4 linked regions of the Homo sapiens genome follow. The protein of the gene in region 2 interacts with the protein of the main gene of each other region in a biochemical or structural test. Each region holds a gene or a part of one and is shown on either strand. Other genes may lie near its edges. The genes, in order: PLD1, PKN1, CCNT2 and AKAP9.

Region 1 (7,028 bases), on a different chromosome or scaffold from region 2:
AGTATCTACCTAAAATGCCTGTTTTTCTACCTTTTTAGTCTCTACCTACCGAATTTCTACATATGTTCAAGGCCAGTTCCAATACAGGCACTGAACAAGTTATATTTTAAAAAATATTTTGGTTTTCAAAATTTTTTGGAATTTAGAATCGTGGTTAAGGGTTTGTAGACCTGTATTTCGTCTGTGGATCAATGATGACTCTTGCAGTAGGAGTATCTTCCCTCAATGAATTACTAAAATATTAGGTTTGTAAAATATTTAAAACTCATGCTCACCTATTAGATAACAAGCTATTTAACAGCACTAGATGAATCTTACACATCCTATCCATTGCATTCCTAAGAACAGTTTAGAAACAGCTTAATATTATCCCTTGTGACGAGACATTCAAATTTGAAAAGCCTGTCTCAACTAAATTGCAAAAATAATTTTTCCCTCACTTACCTATTTAATATTGCTTAAAAGGAAAAGATCAGCACATAGTTGCTGAATAGCATTAGGAGAAACACTTAATGTAGATGACAGGTTGATGGGTGCAGCAAACCACTGTGGCACTTGTATACCTATGTAACAAACCTGCATGTTCTGCACGTGTATCCCAGAACTTAAAGTATAATACAGAAAGAAAAAGAAAGAAAGAAAGAAAGAAAGAAAGAAAGAAAGAAAGAAAGAAAGAAAGAAAGAAAAAGAAAGAAAGAAAGAAAGAAAGGGAATAAAATTCAACACTTTAAAAATAGTATCAAGCAAAATTCTCCCTCTTAGAACATAATTCTGAATGAAAAAAAATCTTGAAAATGACTGAGTGATTTTGAAAAACATATATTTCAGATATGATTCCTAACCACGTTTTTAGTGCAGTTTTTCTATATAAAAACCCATAGTGATGTTCACTCCACACTGATTTCTGTATGACACCAGGAGGTTTAATTCAACAAGGAGCCCAATTCAACATGGTCATATGCGGTCAAGTGAAATTGATATTGCAGAGAGGCTAACTCTCTTTGCATTCTCAGGAAAAGGAAGTCATTAACTCAAGTTCATATTCAGTTTTAAATTTCTAACGAAGAGTCACTCCATGCTTAATTTGGGTTTCAAGTTTTATAAGGCAACCTGAGTTTTTAAGGTATTACATGATTTAAATCTAGAGCCTTGCTCTTTAAACTTCCTTCATTTTTTTAGTAGAACTTTTCTTTTTTGAAAACAAGTTCAGAAGGAACTCCAATAATTAAAACAGATACAAGTGGGATTGTTCTGGTTGAAGAGGTACCAATAGCTGTGGGAGGGTCCTGGGGTTCACCTACTTCAATGTTCTCCTCAAAGCCTTTTAAAAACTCCAGGATCCAAGGAATCGACTTTGGAAAGCACTGCTCTAGAAGGACCCCATGATCCTTTGGCTTTTCTTTTTAGGTAAACTGTTTTCATTTTAAAAAATTAAATTTGTATTTATATTTGACTATAAAAGTAAAATGAAAACAGTACCAACAATGTGGGAAAAAAATAAATCACCTCACGCTCCATCTTCCTAACAAAGATAGCATCATTGAATGTCCTTTGTCAGCTGCCTTCACGAACATATTTTGATACAGTGGCAATTGTCCTCAAATTTTCCTTGCTCTTCCCATAGCCACCTCATTTCAGTTCATGGAAATTCCATCTTTCCAGTGGGGCCAAAGATTTGGAGTCCTCTCCATCTCTCACATCTTGTATCTAGTTCATCGGCAAATGCTGTCAGCTCGACCCTCAAAATATATTCACAACCTGCAGAGTCACCATTTGCCACCCTGGTCTGCTCTGAAGAATGATCCTTGGAAAATGTAAGTCAGCCCTCGCCTACCCTTCGCTCAAGACCATCCGATGACTTCCTATCTCACTCAGGGTCAAAATCTTACAGTGGTCTGCAAGACCTCACATAACCCACCCCAGCCCACCTCTCTGATTTTGTTCTTATCATCCTCTCCTAGCCCACTTCACTACAGCCGTATTCCTGGAACACACCCAACCCCTCTACCTCATGGCCTTTCATACTTGCTATTCCTTCTGTCGGAAACACCCTCTCTCAGTTTCTTATCCTCATTCTTCTCTTTCTTTCGATGTCAGCTGAAAACTAACCTCATGAGAGATGTATTCTCCGATGAGCCTTTACAAAATAGTAACTCTTCTCCTATGCTCTTCCTCCCGGATCATGCTCAACTATTCTCCGTGATAATTATCACCACCTGAAATGTGTTTGACTCTCTATTTGTATACACAGTTCCCATCCTTACCCTCCAACTAGTTAATTGCACTTCATCTGTTTTATTCACCACATCTCTAGCACCCAGAATAGTGATTGGCATATAACAGAAACTCAATAAACACTTATTTAATTAAATAAATAAATCTTCTATGTTTATTTTTGTATCCCCAACTACAGTTGTAATCATTGCCCAATTCCATAAAAGAGATGAACCATTTGTTACCATTCATTATGTTCTTCACCATTTCCCTACTCTTTGACGTTTAGGTTGTTCTCTCTCTCTATCTCTCTCTCTGTCTCTCAACAATGCTACACTAGACATATATTCAGTTTATCAGTGAGGGGTTGTAAACAGATGTCAAGGGTACTTTTCATCAGCAACACCATACACATGTATGATCAGTGTCTCAGATCACCACTGTGGATATCACCTCTGTCAACCTGGGGTAGGCGTGAGTTACTTACTGGACTCAGCACCTCACTCACATCTTTTCCACTTGCTGTCAATCCTATTGCCAGCAACACTATCAGTCATAATTCAGATCCATAATCTTCATGGGTTGGCAACCTCCTTTCCTCCACTTCATTTTTAACTTCAGTAATAAAGCAGCAAAGTTACACATTGAAACGATAAGGCACTACCTGGAGCTGTTTCCAACCCTTTACCTCTAATATCGGCCACTGCATGCACTCTTGACCTGGCTTCCTAGATTTCCCAGAGGCCTCCTACTTCCCAGGACTTTGAAGCTTTGTCATGCACAGGAATTACTGGGAGTTGTCCCTGAATCCACACATACACCCAGTACTAGGTGTATGCTAAATAAATATATGTCTCCCCATATTTGTTCTTCTCCATTTTTATTTTTCAAAAATTTAAAAATTGTTTTTGTGTGTGTGAGAGAGGGTCTCCCTCTGTCACCCAGGCTGGACTGCAGTGGCATGATCTCAGCTCACTGCAACCTCTGCCTTCCAGGCTCCAGCAATTCTCCCACCTCAGCTGCCAGAAAAGCTGGGACAACAGATGCATGCCACCACACTCAGCTAATTTTTGTAGAGAGGGGGTTTCACTGCGTTGCCGAAGATGGTCTTGAATTCCTGGGCTCAAGCAATCCTCCTGCTTCAGCCTCCCAAATTGCTGGGATTACAGGTGTGAGTCACTGCACCTGGCCTCTTCTCCATTCTTAAATATATATCGATGCTGTTATGATTTATAGACACAAATTTATTTAACAGTTACACTGAAGTTTTAGTTCATTGTGTGTAGTTGATTATTGCATTTTTTAAAATGCAGCGTAGCTGGACCAAGCTTGTCCAACCCACAGCCTGTGGGCCACATGCGGCCCGGGATGGCTTTGAATGTGGCCCAACACGAATTCACAAACTTTCTTAAACATTGTAATTTTTTTTTGCAACTTTTTTTAGCTCATCAGCTATCATTAGTGTTAGTATATTTTATGTGTGGCCCAAGACAATTCTTCTTCCAATGTGGTCCACGGAAGCCAAAAGATTGGACACCCCTGCCCTAGATGAAAGAATGCTGGGAATCATTACTCAAAGTCTAGCATAATTTTTCAGGTTCATTAGCACCTGCAAGCCACAGGTGACTCACATTCAGGCATGTGAGCTAGACTGTAACTCTCATCTGCTAAACAGGACATGAGAGCCCTGGCCTTAGGTTCTAGCCAAAAAAGCATAACATAGTAATCTTTATTTCTGCTAAATCACAGGTCTTAATTATGGGCACTGGGAGGATGATAAATTGGAACTCCATTGGGCAGGTCATGTATCATCTCTAACCCTGAGTTTCTTCATCTGTAAAAAGGAGATGACAATATCACTACCAAGCACTGCAACTACTCAGGGCAGTGATGGATAGAGTCTGTGCAAAATAAATGTTAGCTTATGATCTTACTAGTGTCATTTATTATGATGATTACTTATCCCCATATCTGACCAGCGGCCAAATCCTTCTTTATTCCCACCACAAGTTAAACTTATTAGTCATTCATTAATTCCTCGAGTATCTGGAGTATCTTCTTACCAAAGGCTATCAGATTGTAATTTCTGAAAATTCACACAGCATGACACATCCACCCAAAGGCCTTCAAGATTTTTAACTGGCCAGGAGCGGTGGCTCACACCTGTAATCCCAGCACTTTCGGAGGCCAAGGCAGACGGATCACTTGAGGTCAGGGGTTCAACACAAGCCTGGCCAACATGGCAAAACCCCATTTCTACTAAAAGTACAAAAATTAGCCAGGCACGGTCATGCACGCCTATAATCCCAGCTACTCAGGAGGCTGAGCTGAGGCAGGAGAATCGCTAAAACCTGGGAGGCGGAGGGTGCAGTGAGCCAAGACGGCCCTACTGCACTGCAGCCTGGGTGACAGAGCAAGACTCTATCTCAAAAAAAAAAAAAAAAAAAGATTTTTAACCAAATAAAATTCCAGCTCCCAAATGTGAATGTCATATATCTTCTTAGTCTTATATCAAAAACTGCATTTTAGCTAAATAATGCATTTTACACAATTTGAAAGCAGTTGGTGCTTTCCCATTCCAGCACCTTTGCTCAACTCACCTCCCTCACTTGCAATGACTTCCTATCACCTACCCCAATTAAATTACTTCCAGGCCTAACCCAAATGTCCCCTCCTCAAAAAGTCTTTCTGCATCATCAGAGAGGAATTCCTCCCTCCTTCCATAGAACTTCCATGACACTATTGAATTGCATGTGCCATGCATTTTCTCTTATTAGGTCTGTTTTGTCTTTGCTGCTATAAGTTCTTAGGGAGTAGGGATCTTGGATACTACAGAATGCTTTGCACAGAGCAGGCTCTCAATAATATACGTAGCATAAAAATTGCAAACAGAAAGCCAATCTGGAAACACATTCACTATGCCCATGCAGCAGACAACACAACCAAAGCTCAAGCCTAAGGGAGTTCTGCCACTTCACAAATTACTTACCAGCATGAGGTCTAGTGAGTCCTTGCTCAGACTCACTGGACGGGTGAAAGAGTTTGAAGTGGGGTTTTAAACCATGGATTAAATTGTGATGACTTCTATAGTGATTAAAATAACCTAGAGAAATTAAGAATTTTTTTACAAAAAAATACAAATATCAAATTTTCTAAACTGGAAAGCAAAGCTGATCATTTTTAAAACCAGGCAGGGCTATAACATCAGTCTTAAGATTCTGTGCAACAGAAAATTGTAGGGCTTTAAGATGGATTTCAAAGGAATAGTAAATTTACAAGATGTAGAAAGTCTGATGTTTGACGAAATAAGCTTGATATATTTCTGGATAGGAAGATAAATGTAATTTCTTCTAAGAAAAGTTTATAAAGTACATCTAATACCTTTTTCTTTTATGGCTTGGCATATTTTAGAAACCCTTTGTCATTCTGCTACCATTAGAAGTGGTAATCGTGGTCGTTATGACTTTTGTGTGGATAAAACAATAAATCTGTTCTAAAATGAGGCAAACAAAGCCACCAAATGGCATGAGGTTGAATAGAATGATATAGCGACCTCTCAACATTGCTCATTCTACTCCATTACAGAAAGACAGATTTTAAAAACAGGTATGTAGTGTCTGGCTATGGAAGAACAGTGGGTAGTTAAGATAAATTCTAGTCAAGGCCATGACTTACTGGAGGTGCTGTCAATGCTGCTGATGCTATCTGCGTCGTGCAGGTGGTGCCTGTGGAGCTGCTTGTAGAGACTAAATTTGGAGAACTTTCTTGGCTTTCCTATTCCTTTCAGTTTTGAATCCACATCATCAATACTCTTCTGGATGGGTAGGTTTTGAACAGGCTCATTTTTATCTTTGAGTCTTAAGGATTCCATAGACTCCATTGCGGCAGGCTGAGAAAAATTTTTTTTTAAAAAAAGACACTGCATAAGACATGCTGCAGTGTGGTTCTTTAATTCAAGTAGAGCTGAAGTATAAAGTTTACAAATGATGGAGGTTCTATAACAGACATGCAATAATGTCTGAGGTCAGCCACAGGGTAGTGGTGGATTCTTGTGAACTGTTTAAAAACTACCAAAGGAATATGAGGAGTTCTGCTATGGTCTTTTTTCAGTAGGCCAAATTCTTGAAATTTCACTCCAATTAAACTTTTAATCTCAAATACAATTACATGGGTTACATTCAGTGTTGAGCTCCTGAACTTGTTCCTCTAATAAACATTAAGTAAGCAAGGCTTCCTCTGTCAATCATTTTCCCTGTTCCTTATGCACTAAATTGCTATTTTTGCATAAGTTTTGCACTATTTTCCAGCAGTAAATAAGATGAAGCCCATCAAATTTTTTAATAAGTGTATTCATATTCTGGCAGCCATTTAGTTGAAATAGCAAGCAGATTGATATACACTTTTTTTAATAAGTGTATTCATATTCTGGCAGCCATTTAGTTGAAATAGCAAGCAGATTGATATACACATACAGATATTTTGGCAGCTCTATTTAAAAGGCACTTTGGGAAGTTATTCACTTCTGGCTCAAATTCCCTCTAAATGACCCCAGACTGACCTATCCTGTTTTTGTATATCTTTAAGTAGGAACTTTCCAAAAACTGTGGCAGATACTTAAGGCTTTTTACTACCTAAATCTCAATTGCCACATATTTTTGTTTATGAATCTTATTTCTGAATAAAAAATAAATCTTAATTAAAATGGAAAACAAAGCTGAATATGGGACAGCCAAAATTCCACTGAATCTGTTTTCTTTTCTTACAAGAGAAGAACAGACTCAGCAATGCTAAGTTACAGCTAGCTAGGTGGGGAA
Region 2 (7,028 bases):
TGTCTATTATCTTTTTCTTTTTTTTTTTTTTTTTCAGTAGAGATGAGTCTTGTTATGTTGCCCAGGCTGGTCTCAAACTCCTGGCCTCAAGTGATATTCTCCTGCCTCAGCCTCCCAAGTATCTGGGATTACAGGCATGAGCCACCAGGCCTAGCTGTCTGCTATCTTTTTAAAATGAATCCTCCCCTCCATAACTTTTCTCCCACTGTAAAGTTTTGCATTTGACATTGAAGCCTTTAATCCAGTTGATTTTTTTACATGGTGTGATGTGAGGCAGGGATCCAAATTCAATTTTATTCTACATGGAAGTCCCAGCCACATACTCCTAAGGATTTATTTATTCATTTATTTTTTGAGCCAGAGTCTCTCTCTGTCACCCAGGATGGAGTGCAGTGGCACAATCTCGGCTCACTGCAACTTCCACCTTCTGGGTTCAAACAATTCTCGTGCCTCAGCTTCCAAAGTAGCTCAGACTACAGGCGCACACCACCATGCCCAGCTAATTTTTGTGTTTTTAGTAGAGATGGGGTTTTGCCACGTTGGCCAGGATGGTCTTGAACTCCTGACCTCAAGTGATCACTGGTCTTGGCTTCTCAAAGTGCTGGGATTACAGGCGTGAGCCACCGCGCCCAGGCACTCCTGAGGATTTACCCTAGCCAAATGCATGTGGGTATACATCAGGAGATGCATTTATATAAAGTGTATGTAACAGTCCAAAATAGAGGCATCCCACAGTCCATTAACAGGAGAATTAATATTTTAAAACTGCTATACCATCTTAGTAGCTGAAGTACGAAATTGCTGATATTTAACTATTTTTTTGCTTTCAGAAAGAGGCAATTCGATATGGCTCAGTCTAACATAATGGATTACTAAACAGGAATAAATATGAATTAACTATAGCTTGTCACAACAAAATGGATGAGTCTACCAAAACAATGCTTTTTTTAGTTTGGTTTTGTTTTTTGCATTTTTTTGTAGGGTGGGGTTTCACCATGTTGCCCAGGCTGGGTTCAAATTCCTTGGCTCAAGCAATCCCTCCACCTCGGCCTCTCAAAGTGCTGGGATTACAGGCATGAGCCACTATGCCTAGCCCCTAAACAATGTTGAATGAAAGAAGCCATGTGATAGAATAGTCTGTATGAGCCTGTCAATATAAAGTTCTAATACCAGGCAAAATTAAACAAAAGTTTTTGGGGATGCAAACATGGGGTTCTACAACTACAAATTATAGCAAGGAAATGATAAAAGTCGGGAGAGTAGCCACCTCTATGGCAGAGGAAGGAGATGGAATTGTGGAGGAGACAAGAGGGGGCTTCTGGAGAGCTGGAAATATTCTATTTCTTTTCCTTTTTTTTTTTTTTTAAGATGGGGTCTCGCTCAGTTGCCCAGGCTGGAATGCAGTGGTGCAATCACAGCTCACTGTAGCCTTGACCTCCTGCGCTCAAGCAATCCTCCCACTTCAGCCTCCCAAGTAGCTGGGACCGCAGGCACAAGCCACCATGCCCACGCCTGGTTAATTTTTGGTTGGCTTGTCTTCTCTTTTTTTCCCTTTAGTTTTTTTTTCTGTGACACAGATTCAGGAGGGCCTGATGACATGTACCCCCAATTTTTTTTTTTTTTGAGACAGAGTCTTGCTCTGTCACCCAGGCTGGAGTGCAGTGGCGCGATCTCGGCTCACTGCAAGCTCTGCCTCCCAGGTTCATGCCACTCTCCTGCCTCAGCCTCCCGAGTAGCTGGGACTACAGGCGCCCACCACCACGCCTGGCTAATTGTTTGTATTTTTAGTAGAGTTGGGGTTTCACTGTGTTAGCCAGGATGGTCTCGATCTCCTGACCTTGTGATCCACCCGCTTCGGCCTCCCAAAGTGCTGGGATTACAGGCGTGAGCCACCACACCTGGCCATATGCCCCAATTTTTAAATTATTTGTAAAGACAAGGTCTTGCTATGTTGCCCAGGCTGGTCTTGAACTCCTGGGTTCAAGTGATCCTCCTACAAATACCAAAATGCTGGGATTCCAGGCATGAGCCGTGGCACCTGGCTGCCATATTCTATTTCCTAACGCAGGTGGTGGTAATATGGGTGTCTGCTCTCCTGTTACTCTTCTCCACACTCCCTTTTTTTTTTGTACATACGTATTAATTTTCTTTCTTTTTCCTTTTTTGCCATGAGATTACGAATCAAATTTTCTTTTAAAAAAATTATGGCCAACATGGTGAAACCCCATCTCCATAAAAATACAAAAATTAGCCGGGTGTGGTGGCGCACGCCTGTAATCCCACCAGCTATTTGGGTTGGCTGAGGCAAGAGAATCGCTCAAACCGAGGAGGCAGAGGTTGCAGTGAGCTGAGACGGTGCCACTGCACTCCAGCCTGGGCAGCAGAGGAGAATCTGTCTCAAGAAAAAAAAAATTATGGTAAAATACATGTAACATAAAATTTACCATCATAATCACTTTAAAGTGTCCATCCAGTTCAGTGGCATTAAGTACATTCACATTGCTGTGCAACCATTACCACCATCCATCTCCAGAACTTTCACCTTACAAAACTGAAACTCTGTCCACATTAAATAATAAACTCCCCATTCCCCCTCCCTCTACTCCCTGGCATCCATCATTCTACTTTCTGTCTCTATGAATCTAACTACTCTAGGAACCTCATATAACTGGAATCATACAATATTTGTCTTTTGGGGACTGGCTTATTTCACTTAGACTAATGTCCTCAAGATTCATCCGTGTTGCAGGATAAGACAGGATTCCTTTCCTTTTTTTTTTTTTTTTTTTTGAGACAGTGTTTCACTCTGTCACCCAGGCAGGAGTGCGGTGGCATGATCTTGGCTGACTGCAACGCCTGCCTCCTGGGCTCAAGCGGTTTTCCTACCTCAGCCTCCTGAGTAGCTGGGATTACAGGCATGTGCCACCACACCCGGCTAATTTTTGTATTTTTAATAGAGATGGGGTTTCACCATGTTGGCCAGGCTGGTCTCGAACCCCTGACCTCAAGTGATCCACCTGCCTCGGCCTCCCAAAGTGCTGGGATTACAGGCATGAGCCACTGCGCCTGGCAGGATTTCTTTCCTTTTTAAATCTGAGCAATGTTCCATTGCATGGCTGGCCCACGTTTTGTTTACCCATTCATCTATTGGTGGATCTGGGTTGCTTCCATTTTTGGCTTTCATAATGCTGCTATGAACACAGGTATACATATCTCTGAGACCCTTTTTTTTTTTTTTAAATATTTTTCTATCACTATTTTTAAAACTGACAAATAAAAATTATATATATTTATCATGCACAACATGTTGTTTTGAAATATGTATGCATTATGGAATGTCCGAGGCCCTGTTTTTAATTCTTTTGGGGATATGCCCAGAAGTAGCTTTGGATCATATGGTTACTCTTGTTTTTTTGTTTGTTTGTTTGTTTTGAGATGGAGTCTCATTCTGTCACCCAGGCTGGAGTGCAGTAGCATGATCTCTGCTCACTCCAACCTCTGCCTCCCGGATTCAAGCAATTCTCCTGCCTCAGCCTCCAGAGTAGCTGGGACTACAGGCGTGCACCACCACCAAGCCCGGTTAACTTTTGTATTTTTAGTAGAAATGGGGTTTCACCATGATGGCCAGGCTGGTCTTGAACTTCTGACCTCAGGTGATCCACCTACCTTGACCTCCCAAAGTGGTGGAATTACAGGTGTGAGCCATTGCGCCTGGACTGCTTACTCTGTTTTTACTTGTTTCAGGAACTGCCAATATTCCTTCCTCCCTCCCTCCCTCCCTCTCTCTCTCTTTCTTTCAGACAGAGTCTCGCTCTGTTGCCCAGGCTGGAGTGCAGTGGCTCGATCTAAGCTCACTGCAACTTCTGCCTCCTGGGTTCAAGCGATTCTCCTGCCTCAGCCTTCTGAGTAGCTGGGATTACAGACACACACCACCATGCCCAGCTAATTTTTGTATTTTTAGTAGAGACGGGGTTTTGCCATGATAGCCAGGCTGGTCTCGAACTCCTGACCTCAGGTGATCTGGCCCCCTCAGCCTCCCAAAGTGCTGGGATTACAGGTGTGAGCCACTGCACCCGGCCATGCCAATATATTTTCCATAGGGCTGCACCATTTTACATTCCCACCAACAGTGCACAAAGGTTCTGATTTCTCTCCACATCCTCACCAACACTTATTTTCTGTTTGTTTTGTTGGGTTTTTAAAATAGTATTAGTCATCCTAATGAATATGATATATTGGTTTCTTGTTTGGTTTTCCTTTCTTTTTAAATTTGTTTTATTTATTTATTATTATTATTATTATTTTGAGATGGAGTCTTGCTCTGTTGCACAGGCTGGAGTACGGTGGCACAATCGCGGCTCACTGCAACCTCCGCCTCCTGGGTTCAAGCAATTCTCTGCCTCAGCCTCCCGAGTAGCTGGGATTACAGGCACGCGCCGCCACGCCTGGCTAATTTTTTTGTATTTTTTGTAGAGATGGGGTTTCACCATGCTGGCCAGGCTGGTCTTGAACTCCTGACCTCGTGATCCACCCGCCTCGGCCTCCCCAAGTGCTGGGATTACAGGCGTGAGCCACCACGCCCAGCCTTTTTTTTAATCTAAATAAACTTGAAGTTTTTTTTCTTTTTTTTTAATTTAGAGACAGGGTCTCTCTGTCATCTAGGCTAGAGTGAAATGGCTCAATGATAGCTCACTGGGCTCAAGTGATCCTCCCACCTCTAGAACAGCTAGGACTACAGGTGTGGGCCACCACATCTGGCTAATTTTTACATTTTATTTTTTGTAGAGACAGGGTCTTGCTATGTTGCCCAGGCTGGTCTCAAACTCCTGGCCTCAAGTGATCCTCCTGTCTCAGCCTCCCAAAGTGCTGGGATTACAGGCATGAGCTGCTGCACCTGGCCTGTTTTTTTGTTTTTGTTGTTGTTTTCGTTCTCTTTTGAGGCAAAGTCTCACTCTGTCACCCAGGCTGGAGGGCAATGGCGTGATCATGGCTCACTGCAATTTCCACCTCCCGGGTTCAAGTAATTCTCCTGCCTAAGCCTCCCAAACAGCTGGGATTACAGGTGTGCACCACCATGCCCAGCTAAGTTGTATTTTTAAGTAGAGACAGTGTTTCACCATGTTGGCCAGGCTGGTCTCAAATTCCTGACCTCAAGTGATCCGTCCACCTTGGCTTCCCAAAGTGCTGGGATTACATGTGTGAGCCACCACACCCGACCCCTGGCTTATTTTTTAAAGGTTTACAAATATGGGGCATTCCAGGTCCCCAATGCCACCTCGTTTCTCAGGGCCCACGATGCCCACTCACTGGTGTTCTCGGCTTCTGCTTTGAGGCTGCTCCGGCCACTGAGGCTTCCGCTTCGGCTGTAAAGGCCCCGGGCTGGGCGGCTCAGGAAGGGGGGGCGGCTGTCTGGGGTCCCAGGTCCCCCCATTGAGGGGGTAGGGTTCCACGGGATGGTCTCTGGGAGGTCTCTGCAGCCCACCACTCGTACCTCCAGGGTCCCTGCAGGAGGGGAAAGCTCAGCAGGGGGCCACTTCTGGGGCAGGCTGAGCGGAGGGGACCACAGCGGGGAGGGGACACATCCAGACGCAGCCATGGTACAAGTGGGAGCCAGTGAGGGACAACCAGAATGGAGCATGGGGCATGAGGCCGGGATGTCCGTGCTGGGATAGGAGAATATGAGAGAAGCAGTCCTTCCAGGAGGGGCTCAGATGCGGGAGTTTAGGGGCAGAAGAGAGGCTCAGGGTACAGGCCGTAGGCTCAGGGTACAGGCCGTAGGCCCAGGCAAGCAGGAACAGGGTAGGACTAGGGGTTCTAGGGGAGGACTCGGTGGACAATCTGAGGTCTAAGATGGGCTAGGGGTCTACGGTGGGGCTGGTCTGGAGGGGTAGATGGCTGAGGGGTCTGTGGAAGGTGGGGCTGGCTGGTCTGCAGCAGGCGGGTAGGAGGCTCATGGCTGAGCGTTGTGAGGCCGAGGTGGGGCTGGGGAACAAGGGCTGGGAGAAAAATACTGGGCCAGGTGAAGAGAGATGGAGAAACTGAGGTGTGGGGGGGGTGGGCAAGAGCCCAGAATCAGAGGGCAAAGGAGGGGAGGAGACAGTGGTGGAATGGGAGTCCAGGGTTGGGGAGAGCGGAGATTGAAGTCGGGGGTCACAGGAATGGGGAAATGAGAGGAGTCGGAGGCCCAGGGCTGCAGGGGTGGGGTAGGGTCTCAGACCCACCTGTGAGCGGCGCGGGCTTGCACAGGGTGCTGTAGTGCGTGGCGGGAAAGGGCCCGGCCAGGCGGGTGCTGAAGGCAGCGGAGGAGGCCGCAGCGAGCTCTTCTCGCAGCAGCCGCCCCTTGGGGTGGTCGGCGGGCAGCTCCCCAAGTCTCCGCTCCAGAGCCTCCCGCAGCAGCCCCAGCTTCTGGTTGGATTCTGTTAATTTCTCCTGGGCCTGTGGTGGGAAGTGTGGGGGCTGGGGGCGGGACCAGGCTTGCCCCTTCCCAAGTGCAGGCCTAGGCCCCACCCCCAGGCTGAGTCTCACACTGAGCTCCTCCCTAGAGGGCTAAACCTCAAACCAACTTGGTCCCACCTCTGGGAAAACCAGGCCCCGCCCCTTGGAGAGGCCCCTCCCCTCACCGAGGGCCATTCCTGCCTGAAACCATGCCCCCTCGCTGAGGCCCCGCCCCTCACAGTTGCACTGTTCCTGCCTGATGCCCTGCCCCTCACAGTAGTCTACCCTGGCTGAGGCCCCACCCCTTATGAAGGTCCCACCCCCTTTGAGGCTCCACCCCTCACCGTGGGTGTTCCTGGTGAACTCCCCGCCGCTTGCTGAAGCACCGCCCCTTGCTGAAGCCCCGCCTCTAATGAAAGCTCCGCCCCTCACCTCGCTGACTGCCTTGCGGTCCGGGGCCTTGGCAGCGCTGAGCAGGCGCAGTACGTTCTTGGCACCCTCGGCCACCGCGTGCTCCACTCGGAAGTGGTGCCGCAGCTCTTCGATGCGCAGCTCCACAGCCCCCAGGTCAGGACTCCCTGTGAGCGTGGAAT
Region 3 (6,828 bases), on a different chromosome or scaffold from region 2:
CTCGGCTCACTGCAACCTCCGCCTCCCGGGTTCAAGCAATTCTCCTATCTCAGTCTCCTGAGTAGCTGGGATTATAGGCGCCTGCCACCATGTCCAGCTAATTTTTTTTTTTTTTTTTTTTTTTGAGACGGAGTCTCCCTCTGTCGCCCAGGCTGGAGTGCAGTGACACGATCTTGGCTCACTGCAACCTCCACCTCCTGGGTTCAAGCGATTCTCCTACCTCAGCCACCCCAAGTAGCTGGGACTACAGGCATGCGCCACCATGCCCAGCTAACTTTTTTTGTATTTTTAGTAGAGACAAGGTTTCACCATGTTGGCCAGGCTGGTCTCCAAATCTTGACCTCAGGTGATCTGCCCGCCTCAGCCTTCCAAAGTGCTGGGATTACAGGCATGAGTCACTGCGCCTGGCCAGAGGTTTTTAATTTTAATGAAGTCCAACTTACCAGTTTTTTCTTTCATGGATTGTACTTTTGGTGTTGCATCTAAAACCTCATTGCCAAACACAAGGTCAACTATATTTTTTCCTATGTTATCTTCCAGAAGTTTTACAGTTTTGCATTTTACATTTAGGTCTGCAGCCCACTTTGAGTTAAATTTTGTGGAAGGTATAAGGTCTGCATGTAGATTTTTTTTTTTTAATGTGGCTTTCCGGTTGTTCTAGCGCCATTTGTTAAAAAGACTATTATTGCTCCATTGACTTGCCTTTGTTCCTTTGTCAAAGGTCAGTTGACCATTTATGGGTGGGCTCTCTATTCTGTTCCATTGATCTATGTGTCTATTCTTTCTCAAATACCACACCGTCTTGATTACTGTAGCTTGATGTTAGGTAATGTCAGTGCAACTTCTTTGGTATTGTGTTGGTTATTCTGGGTTTTTTGCCTTTACATAGAAGTTTTAGAATCAATTTGTCAATATGTGCAAAATCACTTGCTGAAATTTTGGTTGGGATTGCACTGAATTTGTAGATCAACCTGGGAAGAATTGACATCTAAATTGATTCTTCTAATCTATGAACTCAGAATAGCTTTCTGTTATTTAATCTTTTTTTGTTTTCCATTAGAGTTTTATTATAGTTTTCTGCATATAGATCCTGTACATATTTCAGATCCATATCTTTTTTTTTTTTTTTGGAGATAGAATCTTGCTCTATCACCCAGGCTGGAGTGCAGTGGAGTGATCTCGGCTCACTGCAACCTCTGCCTCCTGGGTCCAAGCAATTCTCGTGTCCCAGCCTCCCAAGAAGCTGGGATTACAGGCATGCACTACCGCACCCAGCTAATTTTTGTATTTTTAGTAGAGACAAGGTTTCCCCATGTTGGCCAGGCTGGTATTGAACTCCTGGCCTCAAGCAATCTCCCACCTTGGCCTCCCAAAGTGCTGGGAGTATAGGTGTGAACCACTGCGCCCTGCCTAGATCCATATCTAAGTACAGGTTGAGTATCCCTAAATCTGAGAATCAGAAACACTCCAAAACCCAAAACTTCAAGCCCCCACATGACATTCAAAGGAAATGTTCATTGGCGCATTTCAGATTTAGAATTTTTGGATTAGGATGCTCAATGGCTAAGTTTATAATTCAAATATTTCAAAACCTAAAAAAACCTGAAATCCAAAACACATCTGGTCTCAAGCATTTCAGATACGTGATACTCAACCTGTATTACTTTGGGAGACGGTACTATTGTAAATGGCATTTTTAAATTATAAATTCCAATTGTTCATTGCTGGTGTATAGGAAAACTGACTTTTGTATTCAACCTTATATCCTAAAATTTTACAGAAGAAGTTTTATGTCTTCCTTCCCAATATGTATATACTTTTAATTTACTTTTCTTGTTAGCTAGAACACCCAGTACCACGTTGAAAAGACTGGTGAGAGGGGACATGCTTGCCTTGTGTCAGACTTTAGGTGGAAAGAATGTAGTTTCTCACAACAGAAACAATCTATTGTTAGCTGCAGAATTTTTGTAGATGCTCTTTATCAAGTTGAGGAAGTTCTCCTTTATTCCCAGTTTGCTGAGTTTTTATCATGAATGGATGTTGAGGATGGGCACTTCTTTTATTTGTGTGTGTGTGTGACAGGATCTCACTCTGTCACCCAGGCTGGGGTGCAACCTCACCTCTCAGGTTGAAGCGATACTCCCAAGGAGCTAGGACTACAGACGCCACCACATCCAGCTAATTTTTTAAAAAACTTTTGTAGAGGTGGGGTCTCATTATGTTGCCCAGGCTGGTCTAGAACACTTTGGCCTCCCAAAGTGCTGGGATTACAGCCGGGAAACACTGCACCTGGCCAAGGGTTTGCACTTTTAAAATGTTGCTTTAAATCAATCTATTCCAGAAATTGTAAGCAACATAAAACGTAAAGCAAGGGAAGTGAGTATGAAATAGCAACTGTTACAAAAACTGCCTACTATAATCAATATTCTTGTGCAATGCAGTATGCTGAGCGTGGGAGCCCCATAACAATCACTTGCCTCCATGGTCTTTGGCAAATAGATATTACTTTATTTTTTATTTTCGAGACAAGGTCTTGCACTATCGCCCAAGCTGGGGTGCAGCAGCGAGATCTAGCTCACCGCAGCCTCCACCTCCTGGGCTCAAGCCATCCTCCCACTTCAGCCTCGGGAGTAGCTGGGACTACAGGCGCGCCACCAAACCTGGCTAATTTTTGTATTTTTGGTAGAGACGGGGTATCGCCATGTTGCCCTTGCCCTCGAACTCCTGACCTCAAGTGATCGGCCCACTGGACCTCCCCAAGTGCTGAGATTACAGGCGTGAGCCACCGTGCCCGGCCTCCAAATAGTTAAGACTTTAAACTTAGAAACCCTATTCACAACACAAACTCCGAGTGAAGCTCAGTGGCATTTTCTTACAGGAAGAAATACAGGAGTTAATCAACAGGTATGTGGGATGTTCCCACATCAAATCCTAAAGATAAAATTTTAACTCAGTTCCTCCTGCACTATCTGATTCTCCCCAACCTTGTCTCGCAGAAACCACAGCGCAGCCTGAAAACACGCCCCGTCTAGATTCAACACCTCATTTAGAAATTCAATTTCTCGTTGCTAGTTGGATAGCGTTTGCCAAGTAATTTGAAAAAATAAAAATAAACCAAGTGGTCTGGGATTTAAACAAGATAATGTAGGGTGAAAAAAGCACTCAGGTGCGGACAGCCATGGAGCGTGACTTCCTGTGCACTCTTTCCCCGCCAGCTCAACGCCAGAGCCGCGCGCTAGGCGGAGACTGTTGGTGGCGGAGGCCGGAGTCGCACGCCTACGAGACTGCGCGGACCCGCCCAAAAGGAAAATGGAAGTAGTGGCGTGAGGCTGCGACAGTGAAGGTTATTTTTCTCTTTTTAAAGGGCCGCTAGACCTCCCGTCTAAAGGAAGCGCCCGACGGGCCTCCGAAGTACACGCCCAGGCCCCCACAGCGCAGCCGCCCGACCGCCTCTCTTCACACCGGCCAGAGTCCACCCTCTCCCACTTTCCCCTCCCCTCCCCTCCCCGCCCCTTCCCTCCCCACCCCTTCGCCCCGCCAACCCTAGACCCGGCATGCGCTGCGCCGACCTTTTCCTTCCGAGCCGACCTCTCCACCTTCGGCGCCTCCCAATGACAAGCGGCGCGGAGCATTGTGGTCCCGTGCGCAAGAGCGAGGCCGAGGGCAGAAAAAGAAAGCAAAAGACTAGGGCGAGTCGGTAGAGCGGGCCCCGCGCATGCGCAAGGGCGGAGGCGGTGGTGAAAAAGGGTGGTGCGTGGTCTACGGCGAGCGGAGTGGGGCGGGGTCGCGCGCCTTGGCGGGGAGTCCGCGAGCCAGGAGGGGCGGGGGGTGAATGAAGGAGCGGGCGGAGGAGGAAGTGTCATGGCGTCGGGCCGTGGAGCTTCTTCTCGCTGGTTCTTTACTCGGGAACAGCTGGAGAACACGCCGAGCCGCCGCTGCGGAGTGGAGGCGGATAAAGAGCTCTCGTGCCGCCAGCAGGCGGCCAACCTCATCCAGGAGATGGGACAGCGTCTCAATGTGTATCCTTTTCTGTTCGCCGCCGCTCACGCCCTGTTTCCCTTGCCCGGTCGCCGGGCCTGGTGCCCCGCGAACATGGCGCCGCCGGCCTCGGCCTTCGCTGGGCCTCGGCGCCGCGGTCAGGGAAGTAATGTTCCGGCTCGGGCAGTCGCGAGGGGTCAGCAGAGGAAGGGAGGAGGAGATAGGACCCCAGGAATGCGGGCCAGGAGCCTGCGTTGTGTAATCTGTTTGGGGCAGCGCGTGGTGGTGGCGGCGGGGGTTGGGAGTGTGGCTCAGGCGAAAGAGGAATTTTAGGGATTATTGCAGAAAAGGGGCGGCTCCCTGGACTTGTCCCTGACCCCGAAGGGTTTGAGAGGTAGGAGGGTTAGCGATGCTGAAAGGCCTAAGTGTTTGCCGCAGCCTTTCCCGGCTCTCGTCGCCGGCTTGATGGCGGCTCTCTTCTACCTTGGGAGCGTACTGGAGTTCTTTATGTTCTTGGCGTGGTTTTGTATGGGTGTGTGCGCGCGCGTTTCAACTGTTTCATTTTGAGTTTAGTTAGTCGTAGCCATTGATAAATAGTTCCAGGGCCCTCAGCGCTGTTAGAGTGAAAAGATCAGCAGTTCTTATTCCCATTTATTTGGCGTCAAGCCTATTCTCTTCCTGCCGCCCCACCCCCCGCGGGCATTTATTTCTTTATTTCCAGTTTGGGGTTTGGATTTGAATGGGAGGTATTGGAAAAGAACCTGGGAATTTTCCATCAAAATTGTTCTGGGAATGAGATCTTGCTTTTGTCAGATATTTCCTAAATATTACGTTCCAGCTCTCAGCTTACAATAAACACTGCGATTGTTTATATGCACAGGTTTTATATGCACCATTCTTTCACCAAATTCAACAAAAATGTAAGTACTAGTTGTCTGTTTTTACTGTCCGCAAATTTGAGGGTAAATCGATACGCAGAAAAAAAGTTGGTCATTGCGTTGTTGGATTTAGTGTTCTGAATTAACGGTAAACGTATATCACGTGATAAATATTTTGCTTCAGATGCGGTGTTTTTGTGTTTTTAAAATTTATGATGAATTAAACTGCAAGGCACTGTTAAGCTCTGCCAGGCCTTTTAAGCTAAAAAAGAAAAACATTTATTTCTTTACAGAGTTATTACATAGGTTTTCTTCATTTAAATTCTATACTTAACATTTGAATAATTTCAGTAGTGATGTACAGTGGAATTGGGCAAGCCTGGTCGTTCTGTGATACATCTTAATTATGTTGGACTCATTGTTTAAAAGACTGTCAATTGAGATTAAATTAATTATGACATTCTTTTGAAAGAGCTATTTAGTAGAAATAATTCATTTCTTCATTTGCTAACCTAGTAATTTCTTAAGATGTCAACGTTTCTGTTTATCACGTTAGCATCAGTTGTCTCCTAAAATTTTGGGTGATTCAAACGTCCACTCTTGCTTCAGATATAGTACGTCAGGAGTATGTTTATGTATTATTAGTAAAATTTACACCTGAATATTAAGGTATATAACCTGTAAACCTTGACAAATAGAGTAATGGCATTTTGTTGAAATGTTAATTTCATTTATGAAAGATACGAGTTTGGTGTATGTTGAGTAACACGCATACTGTGTTGTGTGTGTTAAAGAAAATTGCATATTGTTTAGAAATGTTTAACTCTGCTTTAATTCTGTCTTTATTTGTTACTTTTTATCATAGTTATTTTTAGAATATTATTCTGAAAGGTATGTGTAGAAAAATGGACCAAAGAAGACTTTCTGCTATTTGTGGATAGTCATTAGGACTTATTTGCTAAGAAAACAATCCTAGGAAAGATCCTCAGAATATTATTTTTGAAATGGAAGGAAAGGCTTCATGGTTTAGATTGAGTCCTACCTTAATCTCTTCGGATCCTATTTCATTTATCAGTTTGGCATACAGGTTTATCTTGGACCACAAGTATTTTAATATACATTTTGATCTCTTGAAGACTTCTTCTATTTCTTTTTTAAATCTGCATAATTCTTGCTCTGTTGCTTCTAGTTTCCTAGTTATTTCTTGTGCATAACATTTAGGTCAGTGATAGTGTTATGGAAGAGAAAGGAAGCCATTGGTGATAACATTTAGATTAAGGGAATTCATTATAAATTGTCTCCAAAGGCAGTAGTGAACTAATGAATGTTAATATAAATTTGGCATTCCTTACGTAACCCTGGATAATAATGGTAGAAATTACAAATCAAAATAGTTCTGACTATTCTTTATATGGCTACAGATGTCCCATTTGCCGAATCAGGCATACTTTTGTACTTCCAATAAATGATCTAGCCACAAGTCTTCACTTCTTTTATTTATTAATTTTTTTTTTATTTTTTTGAGACAGAGTCTCACTCTGTCACCCAAGCTGGAGTACAGTGGCGCTGTCACAGCTCACCACAACCTCTGCCTCCCTGGTTCAAGCTATTCACCTGCCTCAGCCTCCTGAGTAGCTGGGACTACAGGTGTGTGCCACCACTCCCGGCTAATTTTTGTATTTTTAGTAGAGAGGGGGTTTCACCATGTTGGCCAGGCCGGTCTTGAGCTCCTGACCTCAGGTGATCCGTCCGCCTCGGCCTCCCAAAGTGCTGGGATTACAGGCACGAACCACCGTGCCCGGCCATCTTCACTTCTTTGTTTTGAGCCCTCCTTATAATTTGTCTTTATGGCGTGGTTGGCGTGCTTTACAACAAATACCCTGCTTAAAGCCAGAATTCACAACTTTAGATTGTCATTTGCATTCTAGCTTTCACTATTTTACTTAAATGTTTTCCTTCAATAAAAAGGCCA
Region 4 (7,028 bases), on a different chromosome or scaffold from region 2:
CTTTAGTTATGTTCATTCATTCATTCATTCATTCATTCAAGGCACCTTTAAGTCCTGTTTGCCTGGGACTCCTGTCTCTTTAAAATGATTTTACTTACCTACTTATGTCCTGATCCATTCTGTAGATTTCATGTATTTATTTGTTTTTGAGACTATAGCCCTCTATTACTTACAGAGGCAAGTAAGTTACTGAAGCAAAACTTTGACCTAGGGCCTCTGCTTGACTTTGTCATGCTGAAGTAATCACCATAACAGATATGCCTTGGCCTGTGTCTGGGCGTAGCCCTATCTCCATTCCAAAATAGAATCCCAAATAAGAACTGGGGGAGAGTATCTGCTTTGCTTTGAAAATTCTGTTTAAACCAAAAGTCCTAGGACCAAGTTGTTATGCCATAAATGGTATAGTTGTCTTAGATGTCACTTGAGGTTCAGCCTTTTAAGCATTGCATATCTCTAAATTTCTGACTGACTTAAGAGCCCAGGACTGAAGTTAAGACAGACCGTTAGGAGTCTGTTTTTGTTGTTTTTCTTTTTCCATAGCCCTTGCCCATGACACACATTGAAGTCACCAGAATACATGTGAGGAACTTTTATTTATTTTTATCTTTCTGAATGTGTCTAGAGTATATGCAGTACTTTAGCTATAGAGAATACTAAATATTTAGAATGTTGATCAGTTAATAAGAAAAATGAAAATGTAACAGTTTGGAGACATCTAAAATCAGACTGGGTTTTTAAACTAAAAATTTTAATCACAGAAATGTTAAGAGAAATTTCTTCTAAGAAGGCCAAAACTACTGTAGTGTTTGCTCACAAGTAGTGTTGGTTACACGAGTTCTAAGTGTCATTATTGTGGAAAAAATTGAGGGGCAGGACCAACATTTACTTTTTGTAGAATTTTTTAAAAGAGAAACTTCTGTCAGTCTTTTGGTAATGAGATGAAGCAGTATAATTTGCCAGAAGCTAAAAATGCCATTCTTACATTTTCATTTTTTTTCCTAAAGGAACAAGATAAAAAAGTAGAAAACTCAAATAAAGAAGAAATACAGGAAAAGGAGACAATCATTGAAGAATTAAACACAAAAATAATAGAAGAAGAAAAGAAAACTCTTGAGCTAAAGGATAAATTAACAACTGCTGATAAATTACTAGGAGAATTACAAGAACAGATTGTGCAAAAGAACCAAGAAATAAAAAACATGAAATTAGAGCTGACTAATTCTAAGCAAAAAGAAAGACAGTCTTCTGAAGAAATAAAACAGTTAATGGGGACAGTCGAAGAACTTCAGAAGAGAAATCATAAAGACAGCCAGTTCGAAACTGATATAGTACAACGAATGGAACAAGAAACACAAAGAAAGTTAGAACAACTCCGGGCAGAGCTGGATGAGATGTATGGGCAGCAGATAGTGCAAATGAAACAAGAATTAATAAGACAACACATGGCACAGATGGAGGAAATGAAAACACGGCATAAGGGAGAAATGGAGAATGCTTTAAGGTCATATTCAAATATTACAGTTAATGAAGATCAGATAAAGTTAATGAATGTGGCAATAAATGAACTGAATATAAAATTGCAAGATACTAACTCTCAAAAGGAAAAACTCAAGGAAGAACTAGGACTAATTTTAGAAGAAAAGTGTGCTCTACAGAGACAGCTTGAAGACCTTGTTGAAGAATTGAGCTTTTCAAGGGAACAGATTCAGAGAGCTAGACAGACAATAGCTGAACAAGAAAGTAAACTTAATGAAGCACATAAGTCCCTTAGTACAGTGGAAGATTTGAAAGCTGAGATTGTTTCTGCATCTGAATCCAGAAAGGAACTAGAATTAAAACATGAAGCAGAAGTTACAAATTACAAGATAAAACTTGAAATGTTAGAAAAAGAAAAGAATGCTGTGTTAGACAGAATGGCTGAATCACAAGAAGCTGAATTAGAGAGGCTGAGAACACAGCTTCTATTTAGTCACGAAGAAGAGCTTTCCAAACTGAAGGAAGATTTAGAAATTGAACATCGAATAAATATTGAAAAACTTAAAGATAATTTAGGCATTCACTATAAACAGCAGATAGATGGTTTACAGAATGAAATGAGTCAAAAGATAGAAACCATGCAGTTTGAAAAGGACAATTTGATAACTAAGCAGAATCAATTAATTTTGGAAATTTCAAAGCTAAAAGATTTACAGCAGTCTCTTGTAAATTCAAAGTCAGAAGAAATGACTCTTCAAATCAATGAACTTCAAAAAGAAATTGAAATACTCAGACAAGAAGAAAAAGAAAAGGGTACACTTGAACAAGAAGTTCAAGAATTACAACTTAAAACAGAATTGTTAGAAAAACAGATGAAGGAAAAAGAGAATGATCTTCAAGAAAAATTTGCACAACTTGAAGCAGAGAATAGCATTCTTAAAGATGAAAAGAAAACCCTTGAAGACATGTTGAAAATACATACTCCTGTTAGCCAAGAAGAAAGATTGATTTTCTTAGACTCCATTAAGTCCAAATCCAAAGACTCTGTGTGGGAAAAAGAAATAGAAATACTTATAGAGGAAAATGAGGACCTCAAACAACAATGTATTCAGCTAAATGAAGAGATTGAAAAGCAAAGGAACACTTTTTCATTTGCTGAAAAAAACTTTGAAGTTAACTATCAAGAGTTACAAGAGGAGTATGCTTGCCTTCTCAAAGTAAAAGATGATTTAGAAGACAGTAAAAATAAACAGGAATTAGAGTATAAAAGTAAACTTAAAGCACTTAATGAAGAGCTTCATTTGCAAAGAATAAATCCAACTACAGTGAAAATGAAAAGTTCTGTCTTTGATGAAGACAAAACTTTTGTAGCAGAAACATTGGAAATGGGTGAGGTTGTTGAAAAGGATACAACAGAACTCATGGAAAAACTTGAGGTAACCAAGCGAGAGAAATTAGAGCTGTCACAGAGACTGTCTGATCTTTCTGAACAATTGAAACAGAAACATGGTGAGATTAGTTTTCTAAATGAAGAAGTTAAATCTTTAAAGCAAGAGAAAGAACAAGTTTCATTGAGATGTAGAGAGCTAGAAATCATTATTAACCACAACAGGGCAGAAAATGTACAGTCATGTGATACTCAAGTAAGCTCTTTATTAGATGGAGTTGTGACCATGACAAGCAGGGGTGCTGAAGGATCAGTTTCTAAAGTAAATAAAAGTTTTGGTGAAGAATCAAAAATAATGGTGGAAGATAAAGTTTCTTTTGAAAATATGACTGTTGGAGAAGAAAGTAAGCAAGAACAGTTGATTTTGGATCACTTACCATCTGTAACAAAGGAATCATCACTTAGAGCAACTCAACCAAGTGAAAATGATAAACTTCAGAAAGAACTCAATGTACTTAAATCAGAACAGGTATGTTTACTTCTTCATATATGGTAAAGCACAATGAAAAAAATGTACATTTCACACTAAGGTTTCACCTTCATAGAACATAAGTTCATATCCTTACAAGAGAATGAAAATGAACCCTCTGATGTAATTTTAACTTGAGCCTATCATTTATTTATCATTTAAGTACTTTTTTTTTTAAACCATTGTTGCCTTTCTTTCAGTTAATCTATCTTGTATATTCTGCTCAGGAAATAAAACACTAATGGATTCAGATTTTCTTTGGAAAGACAAGAGTTTGTATAACTTTATGGAGAATCTCAGCATTAGAAAAGTTATTAATTTCATTTTGTAATTTTTGTTATAATCTCAAAGATTGGTTTCAGCGTTTTTATTTCATAGTGATGTTTTCAAGTCTCTACAACTGAAAATGAACTCCTAAGCTTTTTAATAGTCTCTATAGTTGTTAGGTGGTTATGAAATTATATTTTCCTGGGAGAAAAAAAAACCTTTGATTTAAGTCCTAGAGTTTTTTCAGAGTCTTTATTATACCTGAAGGGGAAAAAACAGTATTAACTCTAAATATAGTTAAAGAATTATATGTATATAATAATAGATCACTCCTGATAATTTATATTTGCCAGATACTGATATTAAAATAACAGGAAAATTCTGCTATCTACAATGTAATGGTGCTAACTAAAGTTTTATGTGTTTCTTCATTTTTCTAACATATTTATTGACTCTCTTGGCAAGTACGAATATAGTGGCCAACAAGAGAGAGGTTTCTGGTCTCAAAGAGCATATATTTTAGTGAGGGAGGCAGATGATAAATGAAACAAGTAGGATAGTGAGAAATAGTGATAAATTCTCTGAAGAAATAAAACAGGATAATGTGATAGGGAATGATGGAATTATTTCTGAGGGCTCTGTTCTGTTCCATTGGTCTATATCTCTGTTTTGGTACCAGTACCATGCTGTTTTGGTTACTGTAGCCTTGTAGTATAGTTTGAAGTCAGGTAGCGTGATGCCTCCAGCTTTGTTCTCTTGGCTTAGGATTGACTTGGCAATGTGGGCTCTTTTTTGGTTCCTTATGAACTTTAAAGTAGTTTTTTCCAATTCTGTGAAGAAAGTCATTTCTGTGAAGAAAGTCATTCCTGATGGGAATGGCATTGAATCTATAAATTACCTTGGGCAGTATGGCCATTTTCACAATATTGATTCTTCCTATCCATGAGCATGGAATGTTCTTCCATTTGTTTGTATCCTCTTTTATTTCGTTGAGCAGTCGTTTGTAGTTCTCCTTGAAGAGGCCCTTCATATCCCTTGTAAGTTGGATTCCTAGGTATTTTATTCTCATTGAAGCAATTGTGAATGGGAGTTCACTCATGATTTGGCTCTCTGTTCGTCTGTTGTTGGTGTATAAGAATGCTTGTGATTTTTGCACATTGATTTTGTATCCTGAGACTTTGCTGAAGTTGCTTATCAGCTTAAGGAGATTTTGGGCTGAGACGATGGGGTTTTCTAGATATACAATCACGTCATCTGCAAACAGGGACAATTTGACTTCCTCTTTTCCTAATTGAATACCCTTTATTTCTTTCTCCTGCCTGATTTCCCTGGCCAGAACTTCCAACACTATGTTGAATAGGAGTGGTGAGAGAGGGCATCCCTGTCTTGTGCCAGTTTTCAAAGGGAATGCTTCCGGTTTTTGTCCATTCAGTATGATATTGGCTGTGGGTTTGTCATAAATAGCTCTTACTATTTTGAGATATGCCCCATCAGTACCTAATTTATTGAGAGTTTTTAGCATGAAGTGCTGTTGAATTTTGTCCAAGGCCTTTTCTGCATCTATTGAGATAATCATGTGGTTTTTGTCTTTGGTTCTGTTTATATGCTGGATTACACTTACTGATTTGCGTATGTTGAACCAGCCTTGCATCCCAGGGATGAAGCCCACTTGATCATGGTGGATGAGCTTTCTGATGTGCTGCTGCATTTGGTTTGCCAGTATTTTATTGAGGATTTTTGCATCGATGTTCATCAGGATATTGGGAATGTTGGAGAGGGTAGTAACAACATTAAATATGGTGGTCAGGAAACATCTCTAGGAGGAATTGACATTTGAGCTGAAATCTGAATGACATTGAAATTAGAGCAATTGTAAAGACACGGGTAAGTTTAAAGAACAGAATGAAGGCTTGTGTAGTTGAGTTTGAGAGAGCGGGAGAGTGGAAGAAGAGTTTGAAGGAGGAAGAGACCAGACCTTGGAGAATCTTGCAGACTTTGGAAGCCATTGGAAAGTTTTCTCTTTTTATTCCTAAATATATCATATTTATGATCTTATATCAAATGTCGAGATATTTTATATTTATGATTTATATCAAATGTAGAGATATTTTATATATTTACTTGCCTAAATAGAGTCAAGAAATTCGAATTGCTTAACGATTTTTTTGTTTGTTTGTTTTTGAGACCGAGTCTCACTCTGTCACCCGGGCTGGAGTGCAGTGGCGTGATCTCAGCTCACTACAACCTCCGCCTCCCGGGTTCAATCAATTCTCCTGCCTCAGCCTCCTGAGTAGCTGGGATTACAGGCATGCACCACCACCACGCCTGGGTAATTTTTGTATTTTTAGTAGAGACAAGGTTTCACCATGTTGGCCAGTTTGGTCTCAAACTCCTGACCTTAGGTGATCCAACAGCCTCGGCCTCCCAAAGTGCTGGGATTACAGGCGTGAGCCACCATGCCTGGCCAAATTGCTTAACTGTTAATGTTCTGTTAAATGTCTGGAATTGTTTTCAAAACCAAAATGTATGGCAGTTACTTGTGAAAATGTCACACATCTTTTAAAATTTTTTAGGAAGCATTTTTGGGAGAAGACCTGAATTTGACCCTCAGATGGTCAAATTTTCTTATTAGGAATTCTAATTTTCTTTTTCTTTTTCTTTTTTTTTTGAGACAGGCTCTCACTGCCGTCCAGGCTAGAGTCTCATGGCGCAATCACAGCATCCTGCAGCCTTGACCTCCTGGACTCAGGTGATCCTCTCACCTCAGCCTCCTGAGTAGCTAGTATTACAGGCATGCACCACACACCCAGCTAGGTTTTTGTATTTTTTGTAGAGACAGGGATTTGCCATGTTGCCCAGGCTGGTCTCAAACTTCTGGGCTTAAATGATCTTCTTGCCTTGGCCTCCTGAAATGCTGGGATTACAGGCATGAGTCTTTGTCACCAGCCAGAATTCTATTTTCTGTACTAAAGAGATACTAAAAAGATACTTTTGATGGCATTCAGATTCCCTCTATTTGACATTGACTACATAAAGTAAAGCCTGTAAACTTCCTGCCCGTTCATCATTACCAAGACAAACCTTTATTGATGGGAAGGGAAGTTCACAGAAGAAATCGAGCAGTGACTTACACAATAGTAACACCTAAGAGCAGCCTAAATATGCTTGAAATAATGTGGATGCCACACAGATATCTCTAATACACTTAGGTAGTTTGGGCAGAAGGAGAAAAATAAAAACATCATAGAAGTCTTTTCAGTGTTGGGATGCAAGGAAGAAGGAAGAGTGGCAGGAATTTTTTAGATACTGATTAATTATTGATGCTGGGAGAGGTCATAGATTGAAGTGTATGTGTTTAAAATTGAAGAT

The links.
Region 1: the proteins of PKN1 (region 2) and PLD1 form a complex in vitro, tested with the Homo sapiens proteins (one study listed by BioGRID).
Region 3: the proteins of PKN1 (region 2) and CCNT2 form a complex in vitro, tested with the Homo sapiens proteins (one study listed by BioGRID).
Region 4: the proteins of PKN1 (region 2) and AKAP9 form a complex in vitro, tested with the Homo sapiens proteins (one study listed by BioGRID).

Annotation. Positions count from the first base shown.
Region 1 is NC_000003.12:171,681,482-171,688,509, forward strand, and holds part of PLD1 (phospholipase D1), read right to left. Parts: intron 6,104-7,028; coding exon 5,890-6,103; intron 5,318-5,889; coding exon 5,204-5,317; intron 1-5,203. UniProt on the Homo sapiens protein: Function as phospholipase selective for phosphatidylcholine. Implicated as a critical step in numerous cellular pathways, including signal transduction, membrane trafficking, and the regulation of mitosis.
Region 2 is NC_000019.10:14,450,303-14,457,330, reverse strand, and holds part of PKN1 (serine/threonine-protein kinase N1), read right to left. Parts: intron 7,014-7,028; coding exon 6,868-7,013; intron 6,436-6,867; coding exon 6,222-6,435; intron 5,503-6,221; coding exon 5,308-5,502; intron 1-5,307. UniProt on the Homo sapiens protein: PKC-related serine/threonine-protein kinase involved in various processes such as regulation of the intermediate filaments of the actin cytoskeleton, cell migration, tumor cell invasion and transcription regulation.
Region 3 is NC_000002.12:134,914,994-134,921,821, forward strand, and holds the start of CCNT2 (cyclin-T2), read left to right. Parts: upstream 1-3,828; 5' UTR 3,829-3,861; coding exon 3,862-4,019; intron 4,020-4,816; coding exon 4,817-4,898; intron 4,899-6,828. UniProt on the Homo sapiens protein: Regulatory subunit of the cyclin-dependent kinase pair (CDK9/cyclin T) complex, also called positive transcription elongation factor B (P-TEFB), which is proposed to facilitate the transition from abortive to production elongation by phosphorylating the CTD (carboxy-terminal domain) of the large subunit of RNA polymerase II (RNAP II).
Region 4 is NC_000007.14:91,999,844-92,006,871, forward strand, and holds part of AKAP9 (A-kinase anchor protein 9), read left to right. Parts: intron 1-1,004; coding exon 1,005-3,392; intron 3,393-7,028. UniProt on the Homo sapiens protein: Scaffolding protein that assembles several protein kinases and phosphatases on the centrosome and Golgi apparatus. Required to maintain the integrity of the Golgi apparatus. Required for microtubule nucleation at the cis-side of the Golgi apparatus.